Linked DNA regions of Homo sapiens. The protein of the gene in region 2 purifies or fractionates together with the protein of the main gene of each other region. This does not show direct contact. Each region holds a gene or a part of one and is shown on either strand. Other genes may lie near its edges.

Region 1 (3,654 bases), about 21 Mb from region 2:
TAACACACCTATCAATCCTAATCAACAAGATTCCTTTTCTTTTTGTCAGGCAAGTCAGATAATCTCTCAAGTAGGTACAGCCTTTCTTGATTACTAAAAAAATAAAAACTCATACCCTACCCTAAGGCCACCTTCCTGAAGTCTCAGGGCCTCTACTGCTGCTGAATTTTATATTGTAGCTTTTCAATTTTTATCACAAGCTCCTTCAGGAATCAGGATTTAGTTTGTGATTTAGAAAGTTCTGGCCACTGCCTGGGGTCATAGCTATTTCTACCACTTTCCAGATGTTTGCCCTTGTGCAAGTTAATGAACTTTTTTCACCTACATTATCTATGAAAAGTGAAAAATAAAGAGTACTTTTCTTGGTTTTCCATGGTGGCCCATGCCTGGAAGTTACCCCAGCACTTTGGGAGGCCGAGGTGGGAGGATCTCTTGAGCCCAGGAGGTCGAGGCTGCAGTGAGCCATGATTGTACCACTGTAATCCAGCCTGGGCAAGAGAACGAGACGCTCTCTGAAGAATGAATGATATACAGCACTTGGGCAGAATAGTGGTTGTCCCTGGCAGGGGTGAGTAGCACAACGAGGTCAGAATTAACTAGGAAGGGGTATGAGGAACCTCTTGTGATGCTGGAAATGTTCTATATTGATATGGGTTTGAGTAATATAGATCTATGTATTAGTTAAAATTCAGTGAATATACACTTAAAATTTGAACATTTCATTATGTAAATTTTACTTCAAAGAAAAACTACAGACAAATATTTAATCAATGTAATGAAATACATGCTGAAATATTTCGGAGAAAGTATGCTGACGTCTGCAGTTTACTTTGAAATACATCAAAAAATAGACTGACGGAGTGATAGACAGAGGGTGGAGTGATAGATACATGATGAAGTTAGTACAGTAGAATCATAGACTCTAGGTGGTGGGTAAACCAATGATCACTATAAAATTCTTTCAACTTTGCTGTACATTTGAAAAGTTTCACAACAAAATGTTAAAAAAAAATAGCACCTGATACAGAGTAAGCACTAGTCAATGATGGCAAATAGCTATTTTCAGCTGAAGAGGGATGAACGGGGGTTCAAATCACTGAATCTACTATAGATCTGTCAGGAAGGAAAGAGACTGCTACTTTTCTCATAAACCTTCATCCCAAATCACGATTTACCTAATTTAAAAAAAATTTTCTTTGGCATCTTTATATAAAAATGAATTACTAAAAAAAAACCAATTAACAACACATGATTCAGGTAGTTCTAGCTAATAGAGGTGACACATATAGGGAAAGCAATGATCAGAACAGGGTAGAAAGAGAAGATAAAAAGCAAATATAATTTTACTGTATGACAAATCTCCCTCAAATAGTTTTCTATTTATTGAATACTTCTCTATTTATTGAATACTTCTAATGATGTGCTATTTTTAAAAAATCCAACTTCCTAAACATATCTAAAAGGTGCTGTTAACAAATTCTGTTTTAGTGCTGAAAATGCTTCAATTTGTCATGTCTGATGAGGCAATATTAAAATATCAGATGATTTTATACAGCTCATGAGCTATAGGTGGAGGAAACTGAACAAGACACCATATGTACGTTGAGCTCCACAAGGTTAGTTGACTTAGGACCTGCAACTTATCCACCCAACAGGACTAAGTGCTTTCAGCAAGAAAGCAGACGTACAATAGGAAATGGAAAGGGAAAGGAAAGCTGGATGTGGGGTGGTAAATGCTCCTGGGAATTAACTTCAGGTTTCAGAATAATTGTTGGCACTCTTCCCGGCCTTTATATCTGGGTAAGATATTAAATATTGGCTTTAGGTACTGAATATCTGAAACATTCCTTATGCCTTTTGAATATACTCACAGTTTCTTTTCAAATACTTCACTTACTTGATTGTCATTTTCATTATCTTTGATAACCAAATACCTCAATAAATTTAATGAAGCCATAATCCTGTTAATTAAAAATATATGTTACTTACAGTATGGTTTTATATAGTCAACAGCAATCTCAATAAGCTAAAACTTTGGTCATATTTTTATAATTAGGTTTGCCAATAGAAACTATTTCCATTAATATCTTTTTGAGTAGTAATAACTTATCACTGTTTTCCATTTGTTTAAATCATACAATTGTGAAAATTATCATCCTTGTTTAAAGAAAGCCTTGTTATCTTTAATATTTGAGAGCATCATCTCTTGCTTTCTGAATTTTAAGATTACTTTTTAAATGCTTTAAACCATTTCTCAATATCCATTCCAGTATACTGAAACTGAAATTATATGTTCTATATGAAAAAAAAAATGACCTGGAAAACAATAAAACAACAAAACCTAAACACATAAATTACATACACAGATTTTTAGTTTTAAGTCACAAGTGCTGTCATTGCAAATTTCTATGGAATGCTGGGTACATAAAAGCTATCAAATCATAGTGCTGGTCATTCATCTAGAAAGAGGAGGTTTTAATTTTGTTTCTACACATTATCAAATCACTTAAATATGAAAAATCTTTATGTAACTTAATGAATTAGCCATAGATCATAAAATCACAGGAAAAGACATTTTATTACTTTAGGTTCCCTAAGCAGATGTTTCACATTTTATTCTGAATTTACTATGTGAACTTTGGTAATGGTCACCTCACCTATCTGAGTTTTGCAGTAAATCTGTTTCTGCACCCTCTGGGAGAAAAAGTACCAAATCAAGAAGGGAAATCAACTGTGGTCCTGTAAACCATTTGTTGTTACGTGTTCTCTGAAAAGCAAACGAAAAATTGAGAAAGCTTTATAATTCATGTAATTCATGTGTTTTTCTAATACCTTGACACTACAAAAATGAAGAATTGCACATTTAAAATACAGTTTTTAACTTTAATTTCCGTACTTTCATTCACTTTCCAGACACCAGGAACGAACCCTGCCAGTTTGAGAACACTGGTCACTCTGTTTTCCATTTAGAATTACTGAGCACTCAGAAACAGAAGAGACTTAAGTTTCCATTCATTTTTGAGAAGCATATAACAAAGCAAAAATAAGCCACAATATCAGCTCAAAGAGGCCCAGAGTGATGACTCACACCTGTAATCCCAGCATTTTGGGAGGCCAAGGTGGGTGGATCACTTGAGATCAGGAGTTCAAGACGAGCCTGGGCAACACAGTGAAACTCCATCTCTACAAAATCAAAATTCAGCCAGGCGCACTGGTGGACACCTGTAGTCCCAATTACTCGGGAGGCTGAGTTGGGAGAACTGCTTGAGCCCAGGAGGTGGAGGCTGCAGTGAGCTGAGATCATGCCACTGCACTCCAAGCTGGGTGACAGGCGTGAAACCCTGTCTCAAAAAAAACAAAAACAAAAACCAAAACCTCAAAGAATACAATTTAAACTTATAGTTAACTAAATTTCCAAATTCAGAGTTTTTAAAACATAGTAGAAATAGGGGAAAAAATATGCCTTAATAATATTTAAGTAATAGTAATACTAGAGATAGAGCAATAACTCACATTAATGTATTCTACATATGAATAAATATACCCTACGAAATAAATTGGTAATTGACACTTTGGCTATGTTCTTACCTTTAATGACATGTCAATTTGATTTTTGATATTTTGAATAATAAAAGCCTCCACACCTGAGTGATT
Region 2 (3,654 bases):
GCCTCCCAAGCAGTTGAGATTACAGGCATGTGCCACCATGCCTCACTAATTTTTATATTTTTAGTAGAGTTGGGGTTTTATCATGTTGGCCAGGTTGGTCTCAAATTCGTGACCTCAGGTGATCTGCCTGTCTCAGACTCCCAAAGTGCTGAGATTACAAGCATGAGCCAGTGCACCTGGCTGGCATTCAGTTTTAAAAGGGAAACAGTATAAAAGTTTGAAAAATTTACAGACTGAAAATGTGATAGAAAAGAAAATCCCATTTCCTGAGGAGAAATTCAAGCTGGCTGCAGAAAATTGCATAAGTAATGAGGAGCTGAATGTCACCAAGACAGTGGGGAATATGTCTCCAGGGCACGTCAGAGACCTTTGCAGCAGCCCCTGCCATCACAGGCCCCTAGGTTTTGGAGGAAAAAAATGGTTTTGTGGGCCTGGCCCAGGGTCCCTCTGCTATGTGCAGTCTAGGAACTTGGTGCTCTGCCTCCCAGTTGCTCCCAGGATGATTTAAATGAAGCCAAGGTACAGCTTGGGCTGTTGCTTCAGACAGTGGAAGCCCCAAGCCTTGGCAGCTTCCACATGGTGTTGAGCCTGTGGGTGCATGGAAGTCAAAAATTGAGGCTTGGAAACCACCACCTAAATTTCAGAGGATGTATAGAAATGCCTGGATGCCCAGAATGAAGTTCTCCTCATGGAGAACCTCTGCTAGGGCAGTGCAGAAGGAAAATGTGGAGTGAGCCCCACACAGAGTCCCTACTGGGACACCACGTAGTGGAGCTGTGAGAAGTGGGCCACTGTCCTCCAGATCCCAGAATCATAAATCCACTAACAGCTTGCACCATGCACCTGGAAAAGGCACAGACACTCAATGCCAGCTGGTGAAAGCAGCCAGGAGGAGGGCTATACCCTGCAAAGCTGCAGAGGCGGAGCTGCCTAAGGCCATGGGAGCCCACCTCTTGCATCAGCATGACCTGGATGTGAGAAATGGAGTCAAAGGAGATCATTTTGGAGCTTTAAGACTTGACCGCCCCTGTAGTCCCTTTGTTCTGGCCAATTTCTTCCACTTGGAATGGCTATGCTTACCCAATGCCTGTACTTCCATTGCATCTAGGAAGTAACTAACTTGCTTTTGATTTTACTGGCTGCTCATAGGCAGAAGAGACTTGCCTTGTCTCAGATGAGACTTTAGACTGTGGACTTTTGAGATAGTGCTGAAATGAGTTAAGACTTTGAGGGACTGTTGGGAAAGCATGATTGGTTTTGAAATGTGAGGACATGAGATTTGGGAGGGACCAGGGGTGGAATGATATGGTTTGGCTGTGTCCCCACCCAAGTCTCATTTGGAATTCCCACGGATTGTGGGAGGGACTTGGTGGGAGGTAATTGAATCATGGGAGCAGGTCTTTCCCATGCTGTTCTTGTGATAGTGAATGGGTCTCATGAGATCTGATGGTTTTATAAGGGGGAGTTTATCTGCACAAGCTCTTTTCTCTTGTCTGCTGCCATATGAGACGTGCCTTTCACCTTCCACTGTGATTGTGAGGCTTCCCCAGCCACATGGAACTGTAGGTCCAAAAAAACCTCTTTCTTTTGCATATTGCCCTGTCTCGGGTATATCTTTATCAGCAGTGTGAAAACTGACTAATATACCACTATACAAGTTCTTACATTACCTGATGAAAGATATCTAATTGTCTATTATAAAACCATAAAAGCTTTGTTAATACATTTTGAAACCTGAATAATGAGAGAGCAGGAATTCTGAACACACATACTAGTTTATCTATAAATTAGAAATATATATGTTTCCAGAAAAAAATTGCTTATTCAAATGTAAAAAAAAAAACCCAGTCTTTCTCCTTGTCAACATTTAAAGTTATTAGACAGTAACACATTTCAAAGCATAATTTAGTTGTTTATCAACAAGAAAAATGTATTACAAGAAATTAATTTATTCCAAATTTTTTTAAAAATCTGCTTTTCTCCATGTCAGTATTTACAGCAGGTGCCATCTTCTGATTAATTAAATCACAAGATGTTCCTTATGCTAACGTCTTAGCAAATAAAACTTAAACAGAAACTGTTGGTTGCACTGTTGTCATTTCTTCTTCTACTTTAAAAAAATTATTCAGAACACCACATGGCCAGCTTGCAAGCTTATTTTCCAGATCACTGATAGCAATGCGATTTTGTATTTGTGTGTGAGTATGTGTTTTGTTTTGAAAAAGACATCAGCTTGAAGCAGTTTCAAATCTCTGGCAATGATTTCTTAAGGAGTATGTCAAAAATGAGCTATTGAACACATTTTTGCCAGGTCACTTGTCAAGTACTTGGTAGGGAGATGTCAAGTTTCAGGGCAACCACAATCCACACTTATGAAACTACTTAGAAAACTATGGAAGAGTTCTGTGGCTCTTACTAGGTATTTTTAGAACAATCAAGAGAATTTTGTTCCTTAGCTTTAGCATATTATAGTCTTCAACGAATATTTTGTAAGTTTTTTTTCTAAGATATGGTCCCCAAATTTTCTTGAGAAATCCCCATGTGCTTGAATACTTGTTTAAGCACAATTCAGAACTGCGGGAGGTCTAAGTCTGCTGTGACTTAGTGTAAAGTTAACTCCTTTTTGAATGTAAAAAGTCAAAATTGATGAAGAAACTGGCAAATTCAAATTTCCACCAAGGAATAGCCCAGTGCTTTTAGCAATCCATTTGAAATGAAGGAGGGAAACCACCCTCTTTAACATTTTAAAGTTTTGAAGGTGTAATGAACCATGCTACCTCCTGTAGTTTCTACCAAACCAAGATGTGTGCTAGGACTGGGCTCATTAGCACTAAGTAGGAGCAGAACACTCAGTTCTGGCTATAGCTTCTTGCAATGTTTTTATCATTATCATAGTATTTGGTTGATGAATTATTGCTATCTCAACTGTTACTTCATTTTTCTTACTGTTTTTGATATAAAATTCCTGTTATACCATGAATTAAATGCCCCTGTGACAAAAAAAAAAAGACTTTTTCTGTTAATTCTTTTTAACAAGTGCCCAAAATATATTATTTTTTCAACAAGGTGGATTCTCGAAGCAAGGTAGTTCTTGTGACTGTTTACTTTCTCTTTCACATGTCCTAGACTATTGGATTATGGTTTGTGAGATAAGGAAGAAAAGGAGTAATTAAAAAACATAGATTATTAGATAGATAGGTTACTTGGGTTTTTTTTTTTTTGGGTCATTAAAGTAGGCATTACATTATCAAAGCTCAAAATGTTAGCAATGAATTTAATTCAATGGCTTTAAAAATTTTACATCTCGTCTGGGAGCGGTGGCTCACGCCTGTAATCCCAGCACTTTAGGAGGCCGAGGGAAGTGGATCACTTGAGGTCAGGAGTTCTAGACCAGACTGGCCAACATGGTGAAACCCCACCTCTACTAAAAATACAAAACTTAGCCAGGTGTGGTGGCACGTGCCTATAATCCCAGCTACTGGGGAGGCTGATGCAGGAGAATCGCTTGAACCCAGGAGGCGGAGGTTGCAGTGAGCCAAGATCACACCACTGCACTCCATCCAGGGCAACCGAGCAAAACTCTGAAAAAGAAAAAAAAATTATGTCTCTTCATTGCAGAGAAGAATTTTTGCTGAAATGAAAAACCACTAATTA
Region 3 (3,654 bases), about 59 Mb from region 2:
GTAGCCGGGGCAGGGAGCTGGCCCCAGGGCAGAGGGCTGGCGCCAGGCGGCCCAGCAGGGATTGGCAGGGATTAGCTGCGGTGCTGGGGGAGGAGGGGGTGGATACACCAGGCAGGTGTGGGAAGGAGAGGCCTCACTACCTGAACCTGGGATCCAGAAACGAGGGATGCTGCTCACACTTGGGGAAGGGCTCCCCCGAGCTCCTGCCAGGACGGTGAAGTCTCTCCCCAGGTGAAGAGAACCAGAGCCACCAGCTCTGAGGCCCTCTTGGCAACAGGGGGCTGCTGGGGACAGGAAGAGTGTCACATTTCATGGATGGAAAAAGCCAGCGTGAGAGCATGTGAGTGAGTGTGTGTGTGTGTGTGTGTGTGTGTGTGTGTACGCGTGCATGCGCAATTCAGGATTCTTGATGGAACAGGCTCTTGAACTCCAGCAGCAGGGGTGGGGGAAGGGGATGGGGTGGCGTGGCTCAAAGCCCCTTTCTCAGGTTCCTGCTTCTCAATAACAGCAACAATAATGGCTTACCTTCATCGAGCATTTTCTGTGTGCCAGACACAATTTTTTTTTTTTGAGACAGAGTCTCGCTCTGTCACCCAGGCTGGAGTGCAGTGGCTAGATCTTGTCTCACTACAACCTCTATCTCCTGGGTTCAAGCGATTCTCATGCCTCAGCCTCCTAAATAGTTGGGATTACAGGTGCCGGCCACCACGCCCAGCTAATTTTTTGTATTTTTAGTAGAGATGGGGTTTCACCATGTTGGCCAGGCTGGTCGCAAACTCATGACCTCAGGTGATCTGCCTGCCTCAGCTTCCCAAAGTGCTGGATTACAGGCATGAGCCACCGTGCCCAGCCAATGCTGTTCCAAGCACTTCACACATACTAACCCCCGACTTTCCAGTTAGGAAACCAAGGGTACAGCTGGCGAGTAATGTGCCCAAGGGAGCTAGGAAGCAGCAGCACCAGGACTTGGACACAAGCCTGAACCCAGAGTCTCCTCTCTTAACCTAAATGCATGCACTGCCCAGCCAGGGACGGTGGCCAGGCCATCTGTTGAGAGGGCCCTGTCTCTCTATCTATGTAAGGGAGCTGTCTAGCTGTGCCCTCCCCACATGCCCACTTTCCTCCCTATAACCTGTCTATTCCCTGTTTTCCAGGGAAACAGTGCTGCTGAGAGCCCACACTGGGACCTTAACCCCCAGGTTCCGTGGCCAGGCGTGGTGACTCACGCCTGTAATCGCAGCACTTTGAGAGGCTGAGGCAGGTGGATCACCTGAGGTCAGGAGTTTGAGAGCAGCCTGGTCAACATGGTGAAACCCTGTCTCTACTAAGAATACAAAAATTAGCCGGGCGTGGTGGCACATGCCTGTAATCCCAACTACTCGTGAGGCTCAGGCAAGAGAATCGCTTGAACCCGGGAGGTGGCGGCTGCAGTGAGCAGAGACTGTGCCATTGCAGTCCGGCCTGGGCGACAAGAACAAAACTCTGTCTCAAAAAAAAAAAAAGAAAGAAAAAAAAAGCCGGGCACGGTGGCTCATGCCTATAATCCTAGCACTTTGGGAGGCCAAGGCAGGTGGATCATGAGATCAGGAGTTCAAGACCAGCCTGGCCAACATGGTGAAACCCCATCTTTACTAAAAATACAAAAATTAGCTAGGCATGGTGGTGGGCGGGAGCCTGTAATCCCAGCTACTCGGGAGGTGGAGGCAGAGAACTGCTTGAACCCAGGGGGCAGAGATTGCAGTGAGCCGAGATAATGCCACTGCACTCTAGCCTGGGTGACAGAGCAAGTCTCCATCTCAAAAACAAAAACAAAAAACAAAAAACCAAACAAACAAAAAAAACTCCCGGGTTCCTTGGGCCACGCAGAGCCTGCCTCTCTGGTTGAGGATCCCACGTGATTGTCCAGTTCAGAGGGTCCCAAACCTGCCCACACATCAGCATCACAAGAGAGGTTGTGGAATCCAGGCTCCTAGGCCCCAGGGCTAGGGGTCTGAGGTGGGCCCAGGAGTCTGGATTTTTCCTACCTTTCCCAGGTGATTTCTGATGTCAGCCACATTTGGGAATCACTGGTCCAATCCATCCCCTTGGTCCGCTGACACTGGGCTGCAATGCAGGGGTCTGGGAGGCGGTTCACAACAAGAGAACTGAAGGCAAGCCCTCCAACAAGAGACCCTGGCATGACCTCCTAACATCCCCAAGGAAACAGCCTCAGTAAACCCAGCCTGCACCCCATTCCCTTGACCTGTCTGCAACACACATTCCTTCCCCTAAAGAGGCCTCCAGTCTACCTCCTCCAGGAAGCCCTCCTTAATCTCATCCCATGTGGTCACTCCTTTGCACGTGCAGTCTTGGTTTGCCCAGTAGTTGACGTATTGGTACAAACCTGCTCCTTCTCCCTCTGCCAGGCCAGGGCCACATCTTTATTTCCTTGGTCTCCCTCTCCCTCACCATGGCTGGGACTGGGCATGACCAAGACACACTGTACATTCTGGCCTTAAGCAGCTACGTGAGGCCTGACACAGTGGCTCACACCTGTAATCCCAGCACTTTGGGAAGTGAGGGGAAGCTGAGGCAGGCAGATCAGTTGAGATCAGAAATTTGAGACCAGCCTGGCCAACATGGTGAAACCCCGTCTCTACTAAAAATACAAAAATTAGCTAGACGTGGTGGCAAGAGCCTGTAGTCCCAGCTACTCAGAAGGCTGAGGCACGAGAATTGCTTGAACCCAGGAGGCAGAGGTTGCAGTGAGCCAGGGTTGTGCCACTGTACTCCAGCCTGGGCAACAGGGTGAAACTCTGTCTCAAAAAAAAAAAAAAAGGCCGGGCACAGTGGCTCACACACCTGTAATCCCAGCACTTTGGGAGGCCAAGGTGGACAGATCACCTGAGGTCAGGAATTCAAGTCCCACCTGGCCAACATGGCAAAACCCCGTCTCTACTAAAAATACAAAAATTAGCCAGGCAGTGGTGCATATTACATACTGCAAGTTATACGGTGGTGCATGTAATCCCAGCTACTAGTCCGGGCGCGGTGGCTCACGCCTGTTATCCTAGCACTTTGAGAGGCCTAGGCGGGCGGATCACCTGAGGTCAGGAGTTTGAGACCAGCCTAACCAATGTGATGAAACCCCGTCTCTACTAAAAATACAAAAAAAATTTAGCTGGGCATGGTGGCAGGCGCCTATAATCCCTGCTATTCAGGAGGCTGAGATAGGAGAATTGCTTGACCCAGGAGGCAGAGGTTGCAATGAGCCCAGATTGTGCCATTGCACTCTAGCCTGGGCAACAAAAGTGAAACTCCATCTCAAAAATAATAATAATAATAATAATAATAATCCCAGCTACTTAGGAGACTAAGGCAGGAGAATCACTTGAAACCAGGAGGCAGAGGTTGCAGTGAGCCAAGATTGTGCCACTGCACCCCAGCCCGGGTGACAGAGTGAAACTCTGTCTCAAAAAAAAAAGCAGCAACATGGAAGGTACTTTTGTACTTTTGTGGTGCCACTGCACTCTAGCCTGGGTGACAGAGCAAGTCTCCCTCTCAAAAACAAAAAACAAAAAACAAAACAAACAAACAAAGTACTTTTAGGAACAGCTACCACCACTGAACCCGGTGAGATACCGTGTGCTGTATGAGGCATGTTACATTCATTAT

Evidence for each region.
Region 1: the proteins of NEGR1 (region 2) and GLMN purify together in Homo sapiens (affinity purification with mass spectrometry; one large-scale study listed by BioGRID and IntAct). This does not show direct contact.
Region 3: the proteins of NEGR1 (region 2) and PLOD1 fractionate together in Homo sapiens (co-fractionation; one large-scale study listed by BioGRID). This does not show direct contact.

The regions. Positions count from the first base shown.
Region 1 is NC_000001.11:92,260,966-92,264,619, forward strand, and holds part of GLMN (glomulin), read right to left. Parts: coding exon 3,589-3,654; intron 2,768-3,588; coding exon 2,658-2,767; intron 1,962-2,657; coding exon 1,898-1,961; intron 1-1,897.
Region 2 is NC_000001.11:71,397,445-71,401,098, forward strand, and holds part of NEGR1 (neuronal growth regulator 1 precursor), read right to left. Parts: 3' UTR 1-3,654. UniProt on the Homo sapiens protein: May be involved in cell-adhesion. May function as a trans-neural growth-promoting factor in regenerative axon sprouting in the mammalian brain.
Region 3 is NC_000001.11:11,941,149-11,944,802, reverse strand, and holds part of PLOD1 (procollagen-lysine,2-oxoglutarate 5-dioxygenase 1 isoform 2 precursor), read right to left. Parts: intron 282-3,654; coding exon of another isoform or gene 141-281; intron 1-140. UniProt on the Homo sapiens protein: Part of a complex composed of PLOD1, P3H3 and P3H4 that catalyzes hydroxylation of lysine residues in collagen alpha chains and is required for normal assembly and cross-linkling of collagen fibrils.